Homo sapiens: one gene and its partners. The protein of the gene in region 2 interacts with the protein of the main gene of each other region in a biochemical or structural test. Each region holds a gene or a part of one and is shown on either strand. Other genes may lie near its edges.

The links.
Region 1: of the proteins of KHDRBS1 (region 2) and YES1, one has a biochemical effect on the other in vitro, tested with the Homo sapiens proteins (2 studies listed by BioGRID, with this or other methods).
Region 3: the proteins of KHDRBS1 (region 2) and TJP1 interact in a test that uses a peptide from one of them, tested with the Homo sapiens proteins (one study listed by BioGRID).
Region 4: the proteins of KHDRBS1 (region 2) and PTK6 form a complex in vitro, tested with the Homo sapiens proteins (one study listed by BioGRID).
Region 5: the proteins of KHDRBS1 (region 2) and AHI1 interact in a test that uses a peptide from one of them, tested with the Homo sapiens proteins (one study listed by BioGRID).
Region 6: the proteins of KHDRBS1 (region 2) and PLCG1 form a complex in vitro, tested with the Homo sapiens proteins (one study listed by BioGRID).
Region 7: the proteins of KHDRBS1 (region 2) and OGT form a complex in vitro, tested with the Homo sapiens proteins (one large-scale study listed by BioGRID).

Annotation. Positions count from the first base shown.
Region 1 is NC_000018.10:805,743-809,242, forward strand, and holds part of YES1 (tyrosine-protein kinase Yes), read right to left. Parts: intron 1-3,500. UniProt on the Homo sapiens protein: Non-receptor protein tyrosine kinase that is involved in the regulation of cell growth and survival, apoptosis, cell-cell adhesion, cytoskeleton remodeling, and differentiation.
Region 2 is NC_000001.11:32,027,368-32,030,867, reverse strand, and holds part of KHDRBS1 (KH domain-containing, RNA-binding, signal transduction-associated protein 1), read right to left. Parts: intron 571-3,500; coding exon 446-570; intron 1-445. UniProt on the Homo sapiens protein: Recruited and tyrosine phosphorylated by several receptor systems, for example the T-cell, leptin and insulin receptors. Once phosphorylated, functions as an adapter protein in signal transduction cascades by binding to SH2 and SH3 domain-containing proteins.
Region 3 is NC_000015.10:29,815,969-29,819,468, forward strand, and holds part of TJP1 (tight junction protein 1), read right to left. Parts: intron 1-3,500. UniProt on the Homo sapiens protein: TJP1, TJP2, and TJP3 are closely related scaffolding proteins that link tight junction (TJ) transmembrane proteins such as claudins, junctional adhesion molecules, and occludin to the actin cytoskeleton.
Region 4 is NC_000020.11:63,530,939-63,534,376, forward strand, and holds part of PTK6 (protein-tyrosine kinase 6), read right to left. Parts: intron 3,378-3,438; coding exon 3,214-3,377; intron 2,767-3,213; coding exon 2,613-2,766; intron 1,750-2,612; coding exon 1,588-1,749; intron 1-1,587. UniProt on the Homo sapiens protein: Non-receptor tyrosine-protein kinase implicated in the regulation of a variety of signaling pathways that control the differentiation and maintenance of normal epithelia, as well as tumor growth.
Region 5 is NC_000006.12:135,459,741-135,463,240, forward strand, and holds part of AHI1 (jouberin), read right to left. Parts: coding exon 3,385-3,500; intron 1-3,384. UniProt on the Homo sapiens protein: Involved in vesicle trafficking and required for ciliogenesis, formation of primary non-motile cilium, and recruitment of RAB8A to the basal body of primary cilium.
Region 6 is NC_000020.11:41,144,043-41,147,542, reverse strand, and holds part of PLCG1 (1-phosphatidylinositol 4,5-bisphosphate phosphodiesterase gamma-1), read right to left. Parts: intron 1-3,500. UniProt on the Homo sapiens protein: Mediates the production of the second messenger molecules diacylglycerol (DAG) and inositol 1,4,5-trisphosphate (IP3). Plays an important role in the regulation of intracellular signaling cascades.
Region 7 is NC_000023.11:71,536,104-71,539,603, forward strand, and holds part of OGT (UDP-N-acetylglucosamine--peptide N-acetylglucosaminyltransferase 110 kDa subunit), read left to right. Parts: intron 1-74; coding exon 75-255; intron 256-1,725; coding exon 1,726-1,969; intron 1,970-3,500. UniProt on the Homo sapiens protein: Catalyzes the transfer of a single N-acetylglucosamine from UDP-GlcNAc to a serine or threonine residue in cytoplasmic and nuclear proteins resulting in their modification with a beta-linked N-acetylglucosamine (O-GlcNAc).

The DNA of each region.
Region 1 (3,500 bases), on a different chromosome or scaffold from region 2:
TAATCACATCAGAACAAAAGTTAGAAGTCAATACATTCGCCAGGAAACAATGTGAAGTATTAACTTATACACAACCACCACCAACTTCCTCACCTCACCCCAATTTCTACTTAATGCTAAGAAACTGAAAAGTTACATTAAAAAATTAGAGAAGTGAAAATCCTCTTAAGTCAGTTGAAGAAAACCTAGAATCCACATTTTGCTGGGAATAGAGGCTGAAAACCAGACAATCTTGAAGTTTCAGGGGTCAGTACTTTTCCTCCTAGCACTTCCTGTTCCGTCCTCACCCCCAATAACCCAGCAAAAGTACACCTATGAATTATGCATTCCTTCACACACATTACTGCAAGAAAATCAGGACTTCTTTTTCTTTTTGTCCTAGGTATATATGAACAAGTCATAATTGTAATACTGATTGTCACTACTGTGATGAGATACCAAATGCATTTTTTAAAAATCTAGGATTTTTCTTCAGCATAACTTGGACTTTCTTCACTAAAATAGTACAACGTATTTATTTAAAATAAACCTTACTAGAGACTAGTTTAACTTCAACTACAATGAATTTTCAGTTCATATTAGAAATATCAAAATGACCTTTAAATTCATATTTGAAGGACTGCTTAAGCTATTTTGTAAAATCACCTTCTAGAACAAAACCTTGAGAGCAAAAATCTAAAGAATTAACTTCGAGCTATGAAAAAGTATTAAGCTAGTTTTATAACATTTTAGTAGAGGTGTACTCAAAAGATTTGTTTTGTTTGCGAAAAGTCCATAGCTGTAATTCATATAAATCTGCCCAGAACCACATCCCTACATACAATTCAGAATTTATTTAGTATTTATTGTGCTAAGGGCTGTTCTCAAAGATTGCTATAAAACAGTTCCTTGACACAGTGAATACTAGGTCAAGAATAACAGACAAGCATGGAAAGAAATAATTACAGTGCAAGGAGAGGTGTGTTTTGACATAAGTGTTTTGTGGGAGCACAAAGAGGTCATAACACCAATCTCTTGCTAAGTATATGCCATAATGATGTGTACTTCTTACTGTTCAAATGCATGGTCTAACTGTACCTCATCCTTCCTCTGGTTATACAAGTTTGAGCACTACTTTTCTCAATCCTCTCTAATCTCCATCCCAAATGCCAAACCCCAAACTACCAAATTCCAAAGACAAGATAAGTCAAAGGAATATCTCCAGATTTTCAGTAGATAGTAGTGGTAAAAGTAAGGACAAGACGCTGCTGTGGCTGGGTGTGGTGGCCTGTAATCCCAGCATTTCGGGAGGCCCAGGCAGGTGGACTGCTGGAGCCTAAGAATTTGAGACCAGCCTGGACAACACGGTGAGACCCCATCTCTCCAAAAAATTCAAAAATTAGCCAGGCATGCTCCAGTCTGGCCAACATGGTGAAACCCTGTCTCTACTAAAAGTACAAAAATTAGCCGGGCGTGGTGGTGCACGCTTGCAATCCCAGCTACTCGGGAGGCTGAGGCAGGAGAATCACTTGAACCTGGGAGGCAGAGGTTGCAGTGAGCCAAGATCGTGCCATTGCACACCAGCCTGGGCAGTAGAGTGATACTTCATCAAAAAAAAAAAAAAAAAATTAGCCAGGCATGGTGGTGCACACCTGTGGTCCGAGCTACTCAGGAGGCTAAAGTGGGAGGATCCCTTGGGCCCCAGAGGTCAAGGCTGCGGTGAGCTGTGACTGCACCACTGCACTCCAGTCTGGGCAACAGAGCAAGATCCTGTCTCAAAAACAAAGCAAAACACAAAAACACAAAAGATGCGACTGCTGCTATTTGCTTGGCATATTTATAAGCTGAGCAGCATTTTAGAAGCAGCAAAATTTGCCTATGGCATCTTCCAGTCTGGGGATTGCCATATATAGCTGATAACGTATTTGCAACTGTTGATGTCCATCTTCTCAAACGCCAGGGATAAAGAAAGAACAAAAGGAAAAGAATGCAGAGTTCCTACTAGCAAAATTCAGGCAGCCACCACGGATATGCAATGTATAGCTAATTCTAGAAGTTATCCCTCTTGAAGGCCTTCCACTTCCTAGGAGAAAGTAGAGTCCAAAGAACCTATATGCCAGCAATTCTACTCCCCTCCCCTAAACAACAATAAAAGAAGCAATTCTAAGAATCACAGCTTAAAGTGAAATGAAGTATAATGCTTCAAGGAACCTGCAGTCTCACAGCTTACTGTACATTTGAACAAGAGAAACTGAAGGGCATTGCTACCCTAGATTTGGGGGGGAAAAGGAGTTGAGGCACAGAGGCTTGTAACTCAGTCCATTAGTACCTCAACAGTACATTATTCTATACTCTAAAATTACAGGATTCTCTGTCTTTCCTGGAGTGGGCTTTCAGATCTTAAAGGTAAACCCAACGCAGACCAGGATATATTGCCATCAAGTCTGCTAGTTCCAAGACAACAGTAGTGCTGCTGCAGCCAACGATTCCTTGGCATACAGACATGTGAAAACGATATTGGCGGCAGCACTGGCTCTTCTCTTTCACCCTCTACTGTTACTATAGCTCCTTTTGCTAAATCTGCCTCTGAGTTTAGACAGGAGCTGGATGGTTAGTAATCACCCAGCAGCTGCAGCTGAGCAATACTCAGCCTAATTGTGGCACTGGAGCAGCTGAGAGGAAGAAAAGAGATAATACATACCCTACCATAGCCATACACGAACTACCAATAAGACAAGACACTTTAATAGAAACAGATTATTTCCTTTAAAGAAAAGCAGTTGTGCCTCGCTATAGGACTTATATTATAAAACTGTTTAAATGTGAACTGAAGGTGACCTAAGCCATGTAGGGTTCTAAACAATGGAAGATCTTACTAAAACTTCCTGTAAATATTCACACAACAAAGCGTGCACCACAAACATCACCTTTATAACATGACTGAAAGTTCCTGTGATATAAAAATTTGGCACAGATGAGATCTCTTCTTCAACTCTACAACAATGCAAAGCCACAATATCAACCACTAAAATAGCAAGCCATTACATAAAGCAAATAAAATAGCATGACCCAATGATTCTCTGCATTTCTGAAACTCCAACACCATATTGTCATTTGCCTTTTGAACCAAAACATATTCATCCTTCAGGTGCTGTGAATCTTCATAAACTTTAAACAAAAACTTATTTTATGCTGAGATTTCATGGCATTCTTAAGAATAGAAAAACTAAGGCTGAAATTACTGATCTAAAGAATTACTGTTCTAGAAAACCGAAAATAGATAAAAGTCAAAACTTAGGATCTTGATGCCGTAATTGAGTTTTGAGTTTTAATTGTCATGTTATGTAATTTTCAGAAAAACAGAGTATTTGATGACAGAACAGTATCCATTCGTTCAATAAACATTTTGATTATCTTCTATTGGTTATTTACAACATACAAGCCGAAGCGGATTTTAATTTTGTAAAACCTGTGTCTTCTGTGAAAATATTAAAACAATTAAGTTATTAAAGAAAACGAAC
Region 2 (3,500 bases):
TAAATGCTTTCCTAAAAAAAAAAAAAGGAAGAAAAAAAGCATTTACTTAAAAGTAAACTTTTAGTAAGAAAATAAAATTAACTTCAACCAATTGAGGATTCATATTATATTTCCTTTTATTTAGATTTCAGGTTAGTCTTTTGACAAAGAGCAACTCTTCAGGTTTTAATTTTTTTTTCTTTGAACTTGTAGCCTGAGCAATCATTTGAGAAAGAAACTTTTTGATAATAAAAAGATGATTATATTTCCTTCCTGGCTATAGCTATGTTATTAGTTAAGAACTTAGATATTTCAACTCTCAGTAACAGGTACTACAAGCATGAAAGAGAAGCTTCACAGGCTTAAGTTTCTAAAGCATCACAATCCCCAGGAGTCTTTATTATAGCCCATGACTCTCTCATAACTATAAAGATAACTCAAAGATCCAAAGCACTTTTTGCCTTACCTTGGGATACTGCTTGACAGGTATCAGCACTCGCTCTTTCAGTTTCATGTTCTTATGAGAAAATAAATCCAAGTAATTCTCCTCATCATCCTTTTTTGAGTCTCCTTTCTGAATCTTCTCAATTTCTGAATAGGAAAAACAATTTATTTTTGCCCTGGTAAATAAATGCAAATTTTGAAGTCTGCTTAAAGCAATAACATGGAATACCATATAGTGAAACCAAATAGTTCACACAAATGTGCCAATTTCAGAAAGAAACTAGCTGAAAGCACTAAAGCTATATGAAGTTGACTAGAAAGCCCAAAGCCTGCTTCTAATAAAAGAAGTGTACTCTTCCACCCTCACCTGAAGCCATGACAACAGAGACATTTAAATGTTTCTTAAATCAATTTAACAAAATTAATTGGGTGAGATGGGGGAAAGGAGAATAAAGAAACAAACAAAAAAATCAAAATCTGCATCAAGACAAAGTATAATCTTACCTTGAAAAAAACAAAAGTAAATAATCTAAATATACAATGGATAGTTCCATTAAAGTTCCACGGTGACATTAGTACTCTAGATACTAGTCCTTAAGAGTCTGAAAGACCTTATTCTTACTCTGCTACTCACTAGTCGTGTGACCTAAGTTAATAAAATACGTAGATATGCCTAATTAAGGCCAATTTTTCATAAAGTACTTAATATATCGTTACCGTTATCTAGCCCAAATTCAGCCAATGCCTAAATGATACAAAATGCACAAGGTACTTTTTTTTCTTTTTTGAAATGGAGTTTCGCTCTTTTTGTCCAGGTTGGAGTGCAATGGCATGATCTCGGCTCACTGCAACCTCTGCCTCCTGGGTTCAAGCAATTCTTCTGCCTCAGCCTCCCAAGTAGCTGGGATTACAGGTGTGTGCCACCATGCCCGGCTAATTTTGTATCTTTAGTAGAGAAGGGTTTTCTCCATGTTGGTCAGGCTGGTCTCGAACTCCCGACCTCAGGTGATCCGCCTGCCTCAGCCTCCCAAAGTGCTGGGATTACAGGCGTGAGCCACCGCGCCCAGCCACCAGGTACTTTTTAAAAAAACATTTTATTGAAGTATAACTGATATGTAAAAAGTTATACATAATTAATGTATACAATGATGAGTGTGGAGATAAGTATACACCCATGAAACCATCACCACCATCATGGGCACAGACATATCCATCATCACCTAAAAGTACTTTCAATTCGCGGGTTAAGACAGTTTCATTAGATAGAAACTTGGCATACAAAAAGATTTCCTACCATTAAGGAACTTCATTCATTGAGTGACTGCAAGTGTTTGAGTGCTTCCTATAGTATGGAGAGGCAGATGAAGGGAGGGCTATAATAGGTACAATCATTAACCACTATGGAGGACTTAATAAGAGCCAGACATCTGTCTTGCAAAGCACAGGAGATACAATAGAGCGAGTCAGACTGGTCTCTTGTCTTCACTGTTTATATACTGGAGTTCCCAGACTATAGAGGTGGCAATGAAGTAAAGTACTATAACAGGAGTTCTAATAGAGATGAGGGCAGAGTGCCCAAGGATGAGTAGCAACTGAAAGCTTATATGATCCACTGAGAGTAGTTAAAAAAAAAAAAAATAGGCCAGGTGCGGTGGCTCACGCTTGTAATCCCAGCACTTTGGGAGGCTGAGGCAGGAGGATCACAAGGTCTGGAAATCGAGACCATCCTGGCTAACACGGTGAAACCCCATCTCTACTAAAAATACAAAAAAAATTTAGCCGGGCGTGGCGGTGGGCACCTGTAGTCCCAGCTACTAGGGAGGCTGGGGCAGGAGAATGGCATGAACCCAGGAGGCAGAGCTTGCAGTGAGCCGAGATCGCGCCACTGCACTCCAGCCTGGGCGACAGAGCGAGACTCTGTCTCAAAAAAAAAAAAAAAAAAAAGTATATATAGTATATATATATACGTGTATATATATATACTCCCTAAAATCAGTGGAACATTCTAAATATCAGAGAATAGTCTGTAATAGAATATTACATAACATTCCCATCTTCTATAATTTTAAGGCGGGGGTTCTCAAACTTCTTCATGCATCACAATCACCTAGAAGAGGGCTTATTAAACTAGATTGCTGGGCTTCAAAGCCAGTCTGGGATTTGTGTTAGGAATTTGCATTTCCAACAAGTTCCCAGGTAATTCTGATATTGCTGGTCCAGGGACCATACTTTGAAAACCATTGGCTTGAAGTATAAAGACACCCTACCTCAAACACGTTCCACAAATCTATACCCTTAACAGTTTTTATTTATTAATTATTATTTTTTGAGACAAAGTCTCGCTCTGTCACCCAGGTTGGAGCGCAGTGGTGCAATCTCTGCTCACTGGAACCTCTGCTTCCCGGGTTCAAGCGATTCTCCTGCCTCAGCCTTCCGAGTAGCTGGAACTACAGGCATGCGCCACTATGCCCGGCTAATTTTTTTCCCTATTTTTAGTAGAGATGGGGTTTCACCATGTTGGCTGGGCTGGTCTCGAACTCCTGACTTCAGATGATCCACTCGCCTCGGCCTCCCAAAGTGCTGGGATTACAGATGTGAGCCACCGTACTGGCCTAACAGTTTTTAAAATAAATATTTAGAGAGGTGCAGCTGTGAAATATATAGACGAAGAAAAATAACTTTGACTCTGACATGCCTTAGAGAATTTAGAATTTCAGACTGAATGCTTGTTTGTTAAAAAGCCTAATTTCAGATGCTATACTATACCATGAACTAATAGACACATACTTCCTGGTTTTCTGACAATTAAAATTGCTGATGAATTGTAAATATCCTTAATTAAAAACCTTTACTCCTATGAGAAGAACTGTAAATGACAGTGCTCTTCACAATCCTGTTTCAGTGCTTGGAATAGAAAACAAATTTGACCTTACAGTTAACAGAGTAATGCTTCATTCAACAGTCTACTTGTGAGGGTAATCCTAACCCTAACCCTTACTGTTTGGTGGCAGATCCTGACCTCTACTTCTTTTCCCCTACTGCTAATATACTTTTTCTGATCAATCTTTTTGAGCCTA
Region 3 (3,500 bases), on a different chromosome or scaffold from region 2:
TCGAAGCCACAGATTGGTTTCCACCTCATTATTTATTGGTGTCTTTCCTTTTTTTTTTTTGAGACAGACTCTCACTCTGTTGCCCAGGCAGGAGTGCAGTGGTGCTATCTCGACTCACTGCAACCTTGGCTCAACTGCAAACTCTGCTTCCTGGGTTCAAATGATTCTCCTGCCTCAGCCTCCCAAGTAGCTGGGATTTTAGGCATGTGCTACCACACCCGGCTAATTTTTGTATTTTTAGTAGAGACGGGGTTTCGGCCGTGTTGGTTGTGCTGGTCTTGAAGTCCCGCCCTCAGGTGATATGCCCGCCTCAGCCTCCCAAAGTGCAGGGATTACATGCTTGAGTCTGGCAAATTGGTGTCTTTCCTAATAATATAATGTAATTTGTGCCAATATATAACCTGGGGGGGAAGAACACCACAATTTGAAACATAACTATCTTATGAAGCTGTCCTGAAACAAATGTAAGAGTTGTAAAATGTAGTTAGGATTATCAGCCAACTATATAAATTAAAGCTTTAACCATGATGGTCTAAAATGCCAAACACACACAAAAATTATTGCTACAGTGAGGATCATTAAAAGTTGGCAGCCAAACTTCAGTGACTTCTCACAAACTACAGTGAGTTTTTCACTTTTAAAACAGTATGAAGCAAGTATGCATTGATCAGTAACTATCATAATTAAAACACTGCATCACTCACTCAAGAAACAATCCCTATATGTAATGACTGACTCTTGTCATTAATTTTTGTTCATTAGCTTGGCCATTTTCTGCAGCTCTTAAGGTTTCAAAAACGTTAAGATATCAAGAAAAGCCCACTGTATACACAAATTAACTCAAGATGGATTAAAGACTTCAATGTAAAACCCAAAACCATAAAAACCCTAAAAGAAAACCTAGGCAATACCATTCAGGACATAGGCATGGGCAAAGACTTCATGATGAAAACACCAAAAGCAATTGCAACAAAAGCTAAAATTGACAAATGGGATCTAATTAAACTAAAGAGCTTCTGCACAGCAAAAGAAACTATCAGAGTGAACAGGCAACCTACAGAATGGGAGAAAAACTTTTGCCATCTACTGATCTGACAAAGGTCTAATATCCAGAATCCACATGGAAGTGAAACTAATTTACAAGAAAACAAATATCCGTATCAAAAACTGGGCAAAGAATATGAACAGACACTTCTCAAAAGAAGACATTTATGCTGCCAAAAAAAAGGAGGTATTTATGCGGCCAACAAACATATGAAAAAATGCTCATCATCACCGATCATTAGAGAAATGCAAATCAAAACCACAATGAGATACCATCTTACACCCGTCAGAATGGTGATTATTAGAAAGTCAGGAAACAACAGATGCTGCCGAGGCTGTGGAGAAATAGGAACGCTTTTACACTGTTGGTGGGAATGTAAATTAGTTCAACCATTGTGGAAGATAGTATGGCAATTCCTCAAGGACCTAGAACCAGAAATACCATTTGACCCAGTAATCCCATTACTGGGTATATACTCAAAGGAATATAAATCATTCTCCTATAAAGACACATGCACACATATGTTTACTGCAGCACTATTTACAATAGCAAAGACATGGAACCAACCCAAATGCCCACCAATGACAGATTGGATAAAGAAAATGTGGTACATATATACACCATGGTATACTATGCAGCCATAAAAAAGAATGAGTTCATGTCCTTTGCAGGGACACGGACGAAGCTGGAAGCTATCATCCTCAGCAAACTAACACCAGAACAGAAAACCAAACACCACATGTTCTCACTCATAAGTGGGAGTTGAACAATGAGAACACATGGACACAGGGAGGGGAACATCACACACCAGGACCTGGGGCCTGTTACCCGGGTTGGTGGTGGGGGGAAAGGGAGGGAAAGCATTTAGGAAAAATACCTAATGCATGTGGGGCTTAAAACTTAGATGATGGGTTCATAGGTGCAGCAAACCACCATGGCACACGTATACCTATGTAACAAATGTGCACATTCTGCACATGGATCCCAGAACTTAATTAAAAAAAAAAAAGCCCACTGTGCTCCACTTGATACAATAAATCAATTCCTGGGTATCATGTAAATCAGTGTAACAGTAAAAAATGACATAAATCATTTTCATACTTACATTATAATTTCAGATAGCCACAGCGGGCAATACTACTATTCCCGAGACTTAACAAAAACATTTAAGTATTCAGCAAAATCTAATAAGCATATACAATAGCACAATCTTAAATTAAATTTTATTGCTTCCTCCAAAGGAAAACAGCTTGAAAACACAGAAGCCACTGAAACTTCCTTCAGCCACTTTTCTGTGATTCAACCAATGAAATCGTTTCTTAACAATGATTCATACCACTTTCTTACACATTTAAACAATTCTTTGGTGACGCAGAGAACCACCCTAATTCTTGTTTTTCAACTTTCTAATAATCTTAAATCAAATACACCAGTAAACAAAATTCTGACTGCGAACGCAGACGTTTATCACACATATAAAAAACGTTTTTTTCCTTTATTTATTTATTTGAGACAGCGTCTCGCTCTGTCGCCCAGGATGGAGTGCAGTGGTGCGATCTTGGCTCAATGCAACCTCTGACTCCCGGGTTCAAGCGTTTCTCCTGCCTCAGCCTTCCCATTAGGGGGGATTACAGGTGCTCGCCACCAGGCCCGGCTATTTTTTTTTTTTTTTTTTTGTATTTTTAGTAGAGACGGGGTTTCACCATGTTGGTCAGGCTGGTCTTGAACTCCTGACGTCGTGATCCGCCCCTCCTGGCCTCACAAAGTGCTGGGATTACACCGCGCCCGGCCACGTTTTTTCCTTCATTACTTTTTGTTTTTGAGACGGAAGCTCACTTTGTCGCCCAGGCTGTAGTGCAGTGGCCCCGATCTCAGCTCAATGCAACCTCCGCCTTCCAGGTTCAAGCAATTCTCCTTCCTTAGCTTCCCAAGTAGCTGGGATTATAGGCACGCGCCACCATGCCCGGCTAATTTTTGTATTTTTAGTAGAGACGGGGTTTCACCATGTTGGCCAGGCTGGCCTCGAACTCCTGACCTCAAGTGACCCACCCGCCTTTATTACTTCTTTAGTATCATGCACGGAGGATTCTTTTCAATCTAGGTACATACATATTTTTAAGTAGTATTCTACATTTTCTTCTATTTTAGAATTTTTATTGCTCTTTGTCATTTAGATTTCCTTTGATTTTTTTTAGCCTATGAGGCAGAAAACATTTTTAAAAAATGGATAACCAATAGTCCTAGCACCATACATTGAACAAGCCACTTTCTCCAATAGTCTACAATATTATTTTTTACCACATATTCGTAGTTTTCCACCTTGCTGGCTAAATGAACTTAAAAGTTATCGTATCTCTGTGTTTCAATTTCTTCACCAAAAAGTAGAGATAATAGTTCACTTCATAGGGTTACTGTGAGAATTAAATAAATTGAGCACTTAGAACAATACCTGACA
Region 4 (3,438 bases), on a different chromosome or scaffold from region 2:
AGTGGAGCAGAGCCTGGGGTCAGCTGAGCCAGCTGAGGTGGGGAAGGGTTGGGGAGGCTGGGCCATGTCTCATCTGCCTCCAAGCTCTGCGGGCTCAGAGGAGGGGCCGGGGCAAAGGGCAGCTGGCCTGATTGAAAATTGGAACTGCAGGCCAGCTACCGCCCTTCTGGAAGGCAACTGTTTATCACGAACCAAGGAGCAAGCTGGGCGTGGTGGCTCACGCCTGTAATCCCAGCACTTTGAGAGGCTGAGGCGGATGGATCACGAGGTCAGGAGATCGAGACCATCCTGGCTAACACGGTGAAACCCCATCTCTACTAAAAATACAAAAAATTAGCCGGGCGTGGTGGCGGGCGCCTGTAGTCCCAGCTACTCGGGAGGCTGAGGCAGGAGAATGGCGTGAACCCGGGAGGCGGAGCTTGCAGTGAGCCGAGATCACGCCACTGCACTCCAGCCTGGGCGACAGAGCCAGACTCCGTCTCAAAAAAAAAAAAAAAAAATATATATATATATATATATATATATAATTAGCTGGGCGTGGTGACAGGTGCCTGTAATCTCAGCTACTCAGGTGGCTGAGGCAGGAGAATCATTTGAACCCAGGAGGTGGAGGTTACAGTGAGCCGAGACTGCGCCATTGCACTCCAGCCTGGGCGACAGAGTGAGACTCCGTCTCAAAAAAAAAAAAAAGAACCAAGGAGCAGTTCCTAGTGGTCTAGCCCAGCGATTTCCCTTCTGGAAGTTTGTGATGACGCGGGAGGAGCTGGACGCAGAAGGACCAGCGAAGAGGCTCATGACTGCGTGATGTAGGCAGTGGGAACTCGAACAGGAGAATGGCTGTCAGCGGCTTGCGGCCTGGTGGTGCCTGTTTTACCCCACATTCCCTCCCGGAGGACCCTGAAGGGCGTGGGGACTGTCTGAGATGATCAAGCCCTTTGTGTGAGGGCGAGGGGTACGGAGCCTTTCGCTCAGAGCGCAAACGTGCGTGGTGCCTCAGTGTAGCTCTCCTCAGACACACACGGCATTTTTCCTATACCACAACGTTCCCTCCCATTCTAACATCGGAATCCAAACTGCGCCTTCACGCACGGGCATCTCCATTCCCTGGCAGCGATTGTCTTTGGTTTTGGTGAGAAAGGAAATAATGGAACTTAGAGAGGATGAAGTCTTTGAGCCAATGTGATCTGTGTGTGTCTGTGTGTGTGTCTGGATCAGTGTGTGTCTGTGTGTGTGTGTGTCTGTGTGTGTCCGTGTGATCTGTGTGTGTGTCTGTGTGTGTCCGTGTGATCTGTTTTGTGTGTCTCTGTGTGTGTGTCTGTGTCTATGTGTATGTCTGTGTGTGTCATGTGATGTGTCTTGTGTGTGTGTCTGTGTGTGCATGTGTATGTCTGTGTGCATGTGTGTGTGCATGTGTGTCTGTGCGTGTGTGTCTCTGTGTGTCTGTGTCTGTGTCTGTGTGTGCATGTGTGTGTCTGTGTGTCTGTGTGTCTACGTGTGTGTGTGTGTAGACGTGGGGGGGGGGTGTGCACTTTATTTCCTCACGTGCCCCCGCTGCCTCCAGCAAGAGCCCCGGCCCATGCCACTCACCGCGGAGCAGCTCCAGCAGGCTGCCCTTGGCCATGAGCTCCGTGATGATGTACACGGGGTCCCCCACGGACACCACGGCGTACAGCGCCAGGATGTGTTTGTGCCGCAGCTTCTTCATGGCCTGGATCTCCGACTGCAGCATCTGCTGGTGCAGGAGGTTGTCTGCGGGGACGGGTGGCCTCGGTGGATGCAGCCCCTGACCCCCCAGGCCCCAAGGAAGAGGCCAAGGCCCTGCCCCCACACACAGCAGCCATCACACCCAGCAGCTGTGCAGGACACACAGACCTCCTGCCCCCGACAGGGCACCTGGCTCCCGAGGCCACGAAATGGCAGATGCAGCCGGCCCCACAGGGCCCCAGCCTGGCGTACCCACGGGGCTGTGGTGGCCACCCGATTTCTTCCTGTGCCCGGCCCAGACCTCTGACATAGAGGCCAGACCTCTGCTGGGGCCCAGACGGGTTCCAGGGAAGTTTTACCCATTTCCAGTGATCTATTTTAATGGCTTTCCATTACGTCAAGGATTTTAAATTTTCTTTCTTTCTTTCTTTTTTTTTTTTCCCAAGACGGGGTCTTGCTCTGTCGCCCAGGCTGGAGTGCAATGGCGCGATCTCAGCTCACTGCAATCTCCGCCTCCTGGGTTGAAGCGATTCTCCTGCCTCAGCCTCCCGAGTAGCTGGGACTACAGGCACATGCCTCCACACTCGGCTAATTTTTGTATTTTTAGTAGAGACGTGGTTTCCCCATGTTGGCCAGGCTGGTCTCAAACTCCTGACCTCGTGATCCGCCCACCTTGGCTTCCCAAAGTGTGGGGATTACAGATGTGAGCCACCGTGCCCGGCCTAAAATTTTCTTTTATAATAAATGTATTTAGGTAAAAACATAGGTGCAATTGAAAGGGAACCACTCTCGCATGGACGCTGTGGGTGCTGCTTGGGGCTCGAGGCCAGAGGTCCCTGTTGGCGGGGTGGGAGGGTGGCCCAGGGCAGGCACGGGGCCACACAGAGCCCTGATCGGGGCCCACTCACCTCGAGAAATCACCTTAATGGCCACCTGGACCCGGTCTTTCCAGAGCCCCTCGAAGACCTCCCCAAAGTAGCCGGACCCCAGCTTCCTGCAGAGCGTGAACTCCTCCCTCGGCCTCTCCCAGTCATCCCAATGGGGCAGGGGCTCAGGCTCGTGCTGGAGGAAGAGTCGGGGACACAGGGCAGGGGCTCATCCTTCAGGAAGTGCCAGTCTGAAGCCAGCACAGGGAGCCTGGATTTAGCCTCAGATTTAGGGCCACGATCAGCCTGGGTTGGGGGTTTCTGAGTGTCTGACACAAGGGTGGACTCTCCTGGGGGCTGCCCCCAGCCCAGCATGAAACACCCAGACAGACCGGAGCCAGGACCCTGCAGAGTGCCGCTGGCCTCTCCGAGAGTGGCCAGGCCCGGGGATGGTCTCCTGGCCCCACCCCCAACTCAGGCAAACACCTGTGCTCTGCAGAACCATGGGCTTCCCTCCAGTGGGCCCCAGGTCAGTGAGTCAGGACCCCTCCCATGCTGCCCGGCCAACCTCTCCCAGTAGGAAATGCCAGCCTGTGACCCCCCAGCCTGACCCCGCGTGACCAAGTCAGGGCGGAGCGGCTACCTTCCGGCAGGGCGCGGCCAGCCGCAGGCCGTGGGACAGGCTCTGGGCCCTGTGGTAGTTCACAAGCTCGGGCAGGCTGAGGAAGGACACCGCCTCGTTCAGGTGCAGCCGGCCCCCGGCACGCCGCCAGATCTTGTAGTGCCGCACAGCCTGCGTGTCCCGCACTGGGAGGGAGAGCGTGAGCTGTGTGGCCACCCCAACTCCGACGCCTCCCTGCGTCCCCAG
Region 5 (3,500 bases), on a different chromosome or scaffold from region 2:
AAAAAAAAAAAAAAAAAAGATTGATAATAAAGAGATTAAATCTTGATTTGTATCAAGGCAAGCAAAATGATAAGGCATAAGGACTGAAAAAGAAGCGATAAAACTATCGTTATTAACGTATTACATGATTGCATATGTAGAAAAATCCAAACAATGTAAGAATAAACTCTGTGGGCCGCGATAGCTCACATCTGTAATCCCAGCACTCTGGGAGACTGAGGTGGGAGAACTGCTTGAGCCCAGGAGTTTGAGACTAGCCTGGAAAATGTAGTGAGACCTTGTCTCTACAAAAATTAGCCAAGAATGGTGGTGCATGCCTGTAGTCCCAGCTACTTGGAAGACTGAGGTGGGAAGATCGCTTGAACCTGGGAAGTATAAGTTGCAGTGAGCTGAGATCACGCCACTGCACTCCAGCCTGAGTGACAGGGCAAGACCCTGTCTCAAAAATAAATAAATAAATAAACTCTTGCAATAAGTGAATTTAGCAAATCAATGGACACAATGTTAAAAAATTTTAAATACATTTCTACATATATGTACCAGCAACAAATACAAAACAAAAATTTTTTAAATGCCATTTATAATATCATTAAGAAACATCAAATCCCAGGAATAAATCTAAGGAGAGATTCTGCTGAAATGTATATTGCTGGGATATATTAAATAAGATGCAAATAAATGGAAGTGCATACCAAATTCATAGCCTGAGAATCAATACTGTGTAAAAATGTCAAGTCTCTTTAGAGAGTTGTTATGCTGTGACTCTTTAGATTCACCCAGTCTAGATCAAAATCACAGCTTGCAAGACAGAATGAGGGTAAAAAGGAAGAGGGAGAATGGAGAAGCTCTTCTAAAATCCATACAGAAATGCAAAGTAAAGAATAGCCTAGACAATGCAGATGAAGAAGGAAAAACCTAGAGTATAATACTAAATAGCAAGACCTATTAAAAAGCTACAGTATTTAGACATGGTAGTGTTGGTACAAACTGTCTAATTTAAAAGAATAGAGACTACAAAAACTGATCCACATGTAACACAGTCATGTTATTTATGGGAAAAGTGACACTGCAACACAGAGGGAAAAAGACACTCTCTTCAGTAAATGGTACTGGGTCAATCATAATATATATTCACATGGATATCTTGATCACTGCTTCCTATCATAAACATAAACCAATTCCTGATGAACTGCATATCTAAATGTGAAAGTAAAACAGAAACAGTAAAACTTTTAGAATAAAACTTTTAGAAAAATATCTTCAGAACTTAGGAAAGATTTCTTAAATCACAGCACTTACCATCAAAGGAAAAAAATGGATAAACTGGACAATACAAAAATTTCTGTTTTTCAAAAGACACCAATGAGAGAGAAATAATCAAACCAGAGTAGGACGACATTTGCGATATAAATGTGGGTAGGTATTTATATCTGAGAATAATCTCATATTGAGGTATATAAACCTATCACTACAAATCAATTAGAAAAAGACAATTCTGTGTTTTAAAAAATGCAGACAACTTGAATATATTTACAAATGTCAAAATCTAAGTAGTTAATAAACATGAAAACACTCAACTTCAATAGTTACCATGGAAATAAAATTAAAACCAAAATGAATATCACTATACATTCCTGAAGAATGAGGAAAATTTAGTCACTCCTAAGAATGACTAAAACGTTAAAAAACAGTATTACATGTTGGTAAAGATGTGGAGTGACTGGAACTCTCAAACACTGCTAGTGTCAACTGGTAAACCAACTTTGGAAAACTGGAAGTAATTATTAAAGCAAAAAATATACATAATCTATGACAGCAATTCTACTCCTAACAATATGCCCAAGATAAAGGTATGCATGTGCTTACCAAATACGTGACTGCAATGTGAATTACCGCTTTACTTATAATTGCCTAAAACTAGAAACAACTCAAATGACCATCAATAAAATAGGCAAATTAACTGTGGTATATTCACACAATGGATATCTAAATAATACAAAAACAGAATTAAGAATGAATAAGCTCAACTGTATGCAAGCAACAGTAGTATAAATCTTACAAAATTAACATTGAGTAAAAAAAGTCAGGCACAAGGAGCACAGTATTTATCATTCTATTCATATTAAAGTATAAAAATAAGCAAAAATAAACTCTGTTAGATGTCCAGGTAGTGGTTACTCCCACAGGGCAACTAACGGGAAGGTGATTTTTCTGGGTGCTAATGATGTTCTGTTTCCAAATTTAGGTAATGATTTTATAGGTATGTTCAGTTTGTGAAAAAAACTTTAAAAATATGTATATGAGTATACTGCTTAGTGCTTTATATATATAGAAACACATAAAACAAGTATACTGCTTAGTGCTTTTCTATATATATCTATATACACATTATGCTTCAACAAAAGATTTTAAAATTTTAATTATAGAAACCACAAAACATCATCACTTACATCTTCTAATGAATAAGTACTATAAAATCTAAAATTGCCCATTTTAATCCCAATTTTTGGCCAATCAAATGGAAACTGAAAGACTAAAAAAGGATGTATGAGTAGAAAAGAACATGTAAAGAAAAATAAGAGAAAACAAACAAGAAAAGAAGAAGACAGAAATCAACAAGGCAAAGAGAAAAGTTGAGAAAGGAAAGAAGTGGTATTAGGCTGACGAATTGGGAGGATACCATGTTGGACAGGATGCAGCCTTAACATCAGAAATGTTTATTGGCTGCTGACCATTTATAGCTTTCAACAACTGAGTCCTAACCATTTAGAGGATGTAAACTCAATGGTTTAAAGAAGAAATCCTCTATGACCCAATAGCAACTACAAAGTCAGTATCATTTTAGAGTTGAATTTAAAGTATGACAAGAATCAGAGAAGGTCAGGCATGGTGGCTCATGCCTGTAACCCCAGCATTTTGGGAGGCTGAGGCAGGTGGATCACTTGAGGTCATGAGTTCGAGACCAGCTTGGCCAACATGGTGAAACCCCGTCTCTACTAACAATACAAAAATTAGCCGGGTATGGTGGCATGCATCTGCAATCCCAGCTACTCAGGAGGCCGAGGCAGGAGAATCGCTTTAACCCGGGAGGTGGAGGTTGCAATGAGCCGAGATCGTGCCACTGCATTCCAGCCTGGGAGACAGAGTAAGACACCATCTCAAAAATAAAAAAAATCAGAGAAGACTCAAGTGATACAAACTCATCAGAGACCTACAGCTACAAATACATGTGTGCTTTAATCTAGATGAATTCAAGAACAAGTACCAAATATCCTATATTGAATTATTTTCAAGTATACCCATCAGTTTTAAAGGGCTAAAATTCCTAGAATCAAGTTATTTCTACCAACATACACAATTTTTCATTTAATTTGTATAGCAAACCTGCTTTAGTCTTCTTTTTTGTTTTTTTTGGTTTAGGTTTTGTATCATCTTGCATGCTGTCTTCTGTGCTTTGTTCCATTGAGCTTATTTCATCATCTTGATGAGAATCTGAAGAA
Region 6 (3,500 bases), on a different chromosome or scaffold from region 2:
CCCTACTGAGAGAGATGGCTACCTTGGATTTCTTTCTCTGAAGTTGAAGTTGAATAACCTATCGTTTTACCTGCTTAGGACAGCTGCTTGCCCAAACTTTACTAGCACACATGATTGTATGGAGCTTCATGCTTCCGGTGTAGACCAGTTCTCAGGCCAGAACCAGGCCATCCTCTTGTGATCAGTCTGGCAACAGACATTCTGTTCTCACTGGAGGGAATGCTCTGTGTTTCACTGCTGGCCTCAAAAGGCCCTCAGCAAAATCCTTAACAAAGTGACATATGTTACCTTTTCCAACCTCCTTGGTAGATATGCTAAGAACGCCCAAGAAAAGGCCACAGTCCCAGTTAGGATGGACAAGCTAACACAGGCACATTATACTCAATTACTGTTGAAGGTGGAGGAAGTGACTAGGGCAGGAAGAGGGGAGCTGCCTCCAAACAGGTGGTGGACTATCAGGCAGAATAGGGTGACCATAAAGTGGGTCTTCAGTGCCTCAGAGAAGGACCATCACCCCTGCCCCCATCGCTGCCCAACCTCCCAACTGAGGGAATGGAGTTGTATTCCTTAGCTCACCTCCTGCCCCCAAGTAAGCTGAGAAACCTGTGGGACCTATGGCCAACTGGAGCTCTCCTTCACTCCTTCCTAGGGTTAGTCACCCTGTGAACTCAGGCCCACACTCTCTGGGCCTTAGGCTGAAGTCAAGGTGGGGTTGGAATTCTCCCACCACACATCCACACCTACACAGCCAGAACCCAGTGTGGTCAATACCCGACTCCTACCATGGGCAAGGCCAAGCCAAGGACACTATGACCCAAGCCCATGCCCTCAACAATCATTTCCCTCAGAACATTTTAACTCAACCATATCCCCAGGTGTCCAAGAAAACAGGAAGCCAACCCCAAAGTGAACTCCCCACCTGTGCCCAGGAAGAACTAAACACACACAAACAAGTGGCCAAACTCGCCATGGCCCAACTCCTCACCAGTTTGGCCAGCTGTTCACTGTCAGGGCCCAGAACATCAGTAAGACCACCCACTCTCCTCCGTACCCAAGCCTTGCTGCCTTGCGCCCAGGCCCCTCACAGCCTTTGTACAGATGCTTTACCCAACACCTGTGTGCCAGCTGGCAGGTGGAGGGACCCCAGGGGGTAGGATGGGCTGCTACAGGGAGAAAAGCGATTCCATCTTGGCCCTCAGGCCCAGCCTACAGCACTTTAGGCACAGCTGTCTCCTGCCAGCCCTGGGCATTAGCGGTTTTCTGCATGGTCCAGATCACAAGCTTCTCAGGATCAAGGACTGGGTCACCTCGTTTTCTTGCTTCCTAACTCCAGCCTCCTCTGTGCCAGGCCTGGGCTCAGTAAAAAGGGATGCCAGTCTTCTGTAGGAGAACGCCCTGCCCCGTTTACTCTGCATCCTGAGTCTTGCTGAAGCCAGGGCCACCGGCCAACACCAGGAAGGGCCAGGGCCGGAAGGAAGCAGCAGAGCCTATACACAAAGCCTACATGTGGACTATAAAAAGGAGCTCCTCCCTGCCTCCCCCAGGATGGGCCCGGTTCCTAGGAGGTAAAGAGTGGGGAGAAAGCTAGGACTTAAGCCTGGGCACACAGCCACTGCAGCCTCTCAAAAGCTAGCCAAGAACCACCTCAAAAGGAACTAGTCTTGCAAGGAGGGGTGCGAGAATATTAAGGGCTTAGCCAGGAATGCAAGTAGAGACTCTCCAAGTCCCATCTCTTGGGACCATAGCCTCTCTTAAGGCAACCAACTCCACTGTCCCCATTGCTTCTTCCCCAAAACTACAGAATATTCGGGGACCAACCCCTTCTCACACTTCTCTACTCTCTAGGGGCTGAAAACACCCCCTAGAAGTCTCTAGGCACCCATATTCCCCACTTTCTCTGGAGACTTCAGCACACCCAGCAAAGCTCTGGGAAGCAAGTGTGATGAGTGGCAGAAGTAGCGAGAAACTCAAACTCTGGGCAGCAGGAGGATACTGTGGCCACAACAGAGTAGGCTCAGCAGGCAGCTCAAGTAGGGCCATGGGTTGGTGGGGAAGGCGGGGGCAGCTATGGCAGAGATGACAATTAGGCAAGGGCCACACAAATATACCTATTTCAAAGATGTCAGCCAAGACAGTCTCTTGACCCACACAGGCAGCACTCTACTCTACCACAACAGCAAAGCCACACTCACCACATGCATCCTAAGTCATAGAAATTAATTCCTTCTAAACCTCCATACTCCAAATCCCTCTCCAGCCTAGTTTGCCCAGGGTGTTCAGGTTCTGTACTAGAGGCCTCACCCAGAACCACTGAGGCCACTCTCCAGGGACGGTGGTGTAGGTTAGCACACATAGCAAACAGGGGAAATTAACCTTCCTTGTTGCCAGCCATTGATATGTGGGCATCATTTGTTATCACAGCACACCCTCACCTACCCTGACAGAGCAGCCTCTTGCCTTATTTCCTTCATAGAACTCACCAAATCCTATAAGAATTTTATCTGTCTGCCTATTTATCTCCTTTCTGGCTGTATCTACCCTAACCTTATGTCCACTACTGGTCTCCACAGTGCTTGGCACAGTTAGCAAATGCCAGAGTCTAAAGCCAGGGAAGCACAAGTCGTCTCTCACTTATTCAATGAGCCACTGAGGCCCAAGAAAGCTAGTTTTTTGTTTTTTTTTAAGGAGAGTAGGTATGGTGAGATGGAACACAAACCACGCTAGAGATCTACTGCCACCATGAACAAGTCAGAGGCTGGAGTAATCACATCCAGCTCAGTGTGCCCAACACACAGTAGCAAGGCCCACAACAAATGTATGACAAATTAAAGAGCACATGAATGAATGCATGCTCTTGAGTTGTCATAGAGAATCCTGGAAAAGCCCTTCTCAGGATATTTGGGGCATGGAGCCCCAGGTTCCCATGTTCTGTAGAAGCTTAGGCGGAAGTGTCACCACAAACCAGAAAGTCAAGAGGGTGAGGCTCTTCTGTGTCCCACCCCCAATCAGCGGCTACATTCACCCCCATGTAGGAGTGTGGGAAAGGTCTGGGTGGGCCAAGCATCTCGACACCGGTGTTGTGGCAAGGATGAGTGCAGGACGGGTTTTGAAATTGAGGCAATGAGTCCAGCTTGTCCACAGATGGAAGTCTAGGCTGGTCAAACACATGTGGCCAGAGGGAAGAAAAACAAAACAAAACAAAATAACCCTCTGTTCCTATAGAACGGTCCATCCTATTATCATTTTCCCCAGAATGGGAGAATAAACTGAATACTATAGCAGGAATCTGAAATCCTAGGATCTGCCATGAACTTGCTATGTGACCTTACCCTTAGGGCTTGGTTTTCTCCTCTGTAAGAGAGGGATAGTAACTCCTGCCCTCCATGGATTCATGGAGCTGCTGTGAAGTTCAAACAATACAACAGGTGAGAAAATGTTCCATGAACTCCCAATATGCTATTCCAATTCCAGAGTTTTTTGATGCCCCAGTCCTCTGTGTA
Region 7 (3,500 bases), on a different chromosome or scaffold from region 2:
ACATTTTTTTGGTTTACATTTCTAACTTTTTGTTTTCCCCCCTCCTTCCCTCAAATGTTTTGATGATTCTCCAGAACCAACGAAACGTATGCTTTCCTTCCAAGGGTTAGCTGAGTTGGCACATCGAGAATATCAGGCAGGAGATTTTGAGGCAGCTGAGAGACACTGCATGCAGCTCTGGAGACAAGAGCCAGACAATACTGGTGTGCTTTTATTACTTTCATCTATACACTTCCAGTGTCGAAGGCTGGACAGGTAGGAGATGTTGGGGTACCTGCTCGTGATTGCTGCCTCTGGGTGCTGAGCTTGAAAAATGATACTTAAATATTTGAACTTGAAATTTTTCCAGTACCGGGTTTCAACTGAGCCGCCAACGCACATCTGCTCTCTTGCCCACTTGTGACATGCCCAGCTGCCAGTTTTTCTCCTTCCTTTTGTGGTGGTGGTTATATTATCAGTATGACTAGGGACCTTTTCTAGATTTTTCTATCTGGGTCTGCTGCTTTCTAGACTCTGTTCAGGTAATAAATTATTATCAATGTATATCTGAGCATCCAGTCTCCCTTTCATGAGACCTGTCAGTTTGAGGGACTGAAATGCTCAGAAATGATGGTTATGTATGCTGTGGCAGGAGATGCATACCTGGAGTTTCATTAAGTTGTTATGGTGTGTTGCTTTTAGTTAATCAGTTGAATTAATCAAAAGGGAAGAATTTGTGTTCCTGTCCTTTTAATAATTGTTATTCTGGCATATTTAGACACTTAAAGATGTGCATCATTAAATCTTAAATGGAAAATGAGACTCGTGCACATAGCTTTCCATTTTTTATCTTAATGATCATGATTTCCAATGTGGTGGGTTTTTTTTTTTTTTTTTTTTTTTGAGACGGAGTTTCGCTCTTGTTGCCTAGGCTGGAGTGCAGCGGCGCCATCTCGGCTCACTGCAACTCTGCCTCCTGGGTTCAAGCGATTCTTCTGCCTCAGCCTCCTGAGTAGCTGGGATTACAGGCATGTGCCACCACGCCCAGCTAATTTTTGTATTTTTAGTAGAAACGGGGTTTCTCCATGTTGGTCAGGCTGGTCTCAAACTCCCGACCTCAGGTGATCTGCTCGCATTGGCTTCCCAAAGTGCTGGGATTACAGACATCAGCCACCGCGCCCGGCCAATGTGGTAGTTTTGTAACAAGACTCTAGTTAGAATTTTTTTCTTTTTTTTGAGGTGGAGTTTTGCTCTTGTCACCCAGGCTGGAGTGCAGTGGCGCAATCTCAGCTCACTGCAACCTCCGCCTCCCGGGTTCAAGCGATTCTCCTGCCTCAGCCTCCTGAGTAGTTGAGATTACAGGCGCCTGCCATCATGCGTGGCTAAATTTTTGTATTTTTAGTGGAGACGGGGTTTCACCATATTGGCCAGGCTGGTCTCGAACACCTGACCTCAGGTGATCCTCCCGCCTCAGCCTCCCAAAGTGCTGGGATTACAGGCGTGAGCCACTGCGCCCAGCCAATAATTTTATTTAATAAGAAAAAGCTTTTCATTTTGAAATCTAGAATACCTCCACTTTTGAAAATCTTTGATTTCCCAAATTTTTCTTGCTATGCACTAGTTAAAAGATAAGGTATTATATAATGAGCAATAGCACAGATCTCAAACTGTTTGAGTTGCATATGGGCCATACCTTCTTTTCTGTAACGTGCATACCCATGCATTAACACTTGTCGCCTTTTCCAGATCTGCTCACTTTAGCACTCTGGCAATTAAACAGAACCCCCTTCTGGCAGAAGCTTATTCGAATTTGGGGAATGTGTACAAGGAAAGAGGGCAGTTGCAGGAGGCAATTGAGCATTATCGACATGCATTGCGTCTCAAACCTGATTTCATCGATGGTTATATTAACCTGGCAGCCGCCTTGGTAGCAGCGGGTGACATGGAAGGGGCAGTACAAGCTTACGTCTCTGCTCTTCAGTACAATCCTGTGAGTAAAATTTTAATGGTTACTTTCCCTTCCTAGAAACCCAGAAAGAAACATAGTGTGATATTTCAGACACTAAAGTAGGTTTTCACATGGAATAAAGTCAAAAGTTTAGAAATGCGTATGTACTTAAAATGGTGAAATTGCTTTTAGCTGGTCTGCGTTATGCTAAAATATTTGTTTTATTTAGCAAGTTATATTAAAAAGCATAAAAATTCTTATTGCAAGAAACTACATCAATTTTAAAATAACACGTATAAAGTACAGAGCACATGACTTTTTTCTGTTGTGATTAACTTTGGATAAATTCTGATAAGTGTTTGCAAGTTAATTGATTTTCAAGGAATGGTGGATAATGGGTCTTAATCTGTAAAATCTGTAATATAAAATAGTTTGAAACAAGATGCCACTATATGGAATGATGTGAAAATTAGGCTACAAAATTTCTTCCTCAATATCCTATTCTCTTCTCTTTCAATGTAATTAGAAGTCATAGAATTTAGATGATACTACTTATACTGGGCTTTTGATTAGTTTAAAAATTTTTTTTGTCTAAGTTGCAGATGTGTTCTGGGAACAAGTAAGGCTCAGCTGGCAGACCTTAAATTCATACTGTGTTTAGGATCTCCGAAAGATACAAAAACATAAGACTTTCCCTCAGAACTTATGATGTAGTTAGAGAAAGTAGATGTAAACTTAAGAGGTAAATGATAGTGGGGTTATAGAAATCTAGAAAAAGTTCCCAAGTTACATTGTCAACATTCAGTTTTGTAACCAACCTGGAAATGGCTAATAGTTTATTTTAGCTACCGTTTACTGAAAGTCTGTGTGGTCAGACACTCTACTGACAGCTTTAAATGATTGGTCTTAGTTAATCCTCACAATAATTCTTCAAAATAGATGATATTATTTCTGATTTTTATCAATTAAAAAAAAACCATGGACTCAGGGTTATGTGGCTTTCATGGGGACAAAGCTAGTAATGAAGTATTAATAGATATTAAAACCTGAGTCTGAATATCCTCAAAGCAAATGTTGAAGTGAAAAGAAATAAAAGTGGGATGATGTGCCCAGAGGGCACTCACCCATCAAAGCAGCCCTTGAGCACAGTTAAAAAACCATTGATCATATTTTGCTGTCCCTTATTTTTTGGTTAGGAAACTGAAACTAAATTTAGTAGTTTGTTCAAAGATCCGAAGTCACTTCTCATGATGATATCTATTAACAATTTTTGTAGTTAATTTTGAGAGTTTAAACGTGTCCTTTTTAGAAAATCCATTGCTTTAAAAAACATTTTTTTTTAAGAGATGGAGTCTTGCTATGTTGCCCAGGCTGTACTCATACTCCTGGGCTCAAGCAGTCCTCCTGCCTCAGCCTCCAGAGTAGCTGGGACTATAGGTGTGTGCCACCACACCCAGCTTCTAAATTTATTGGTTTTTGAATGGATACAGTGAATACCTCCAGTTAGCACTCTTGGAGGTAGCAAATGAAACTAATTTCTTGTCTATCTTTTCTGAGACACTCAGTGTATATA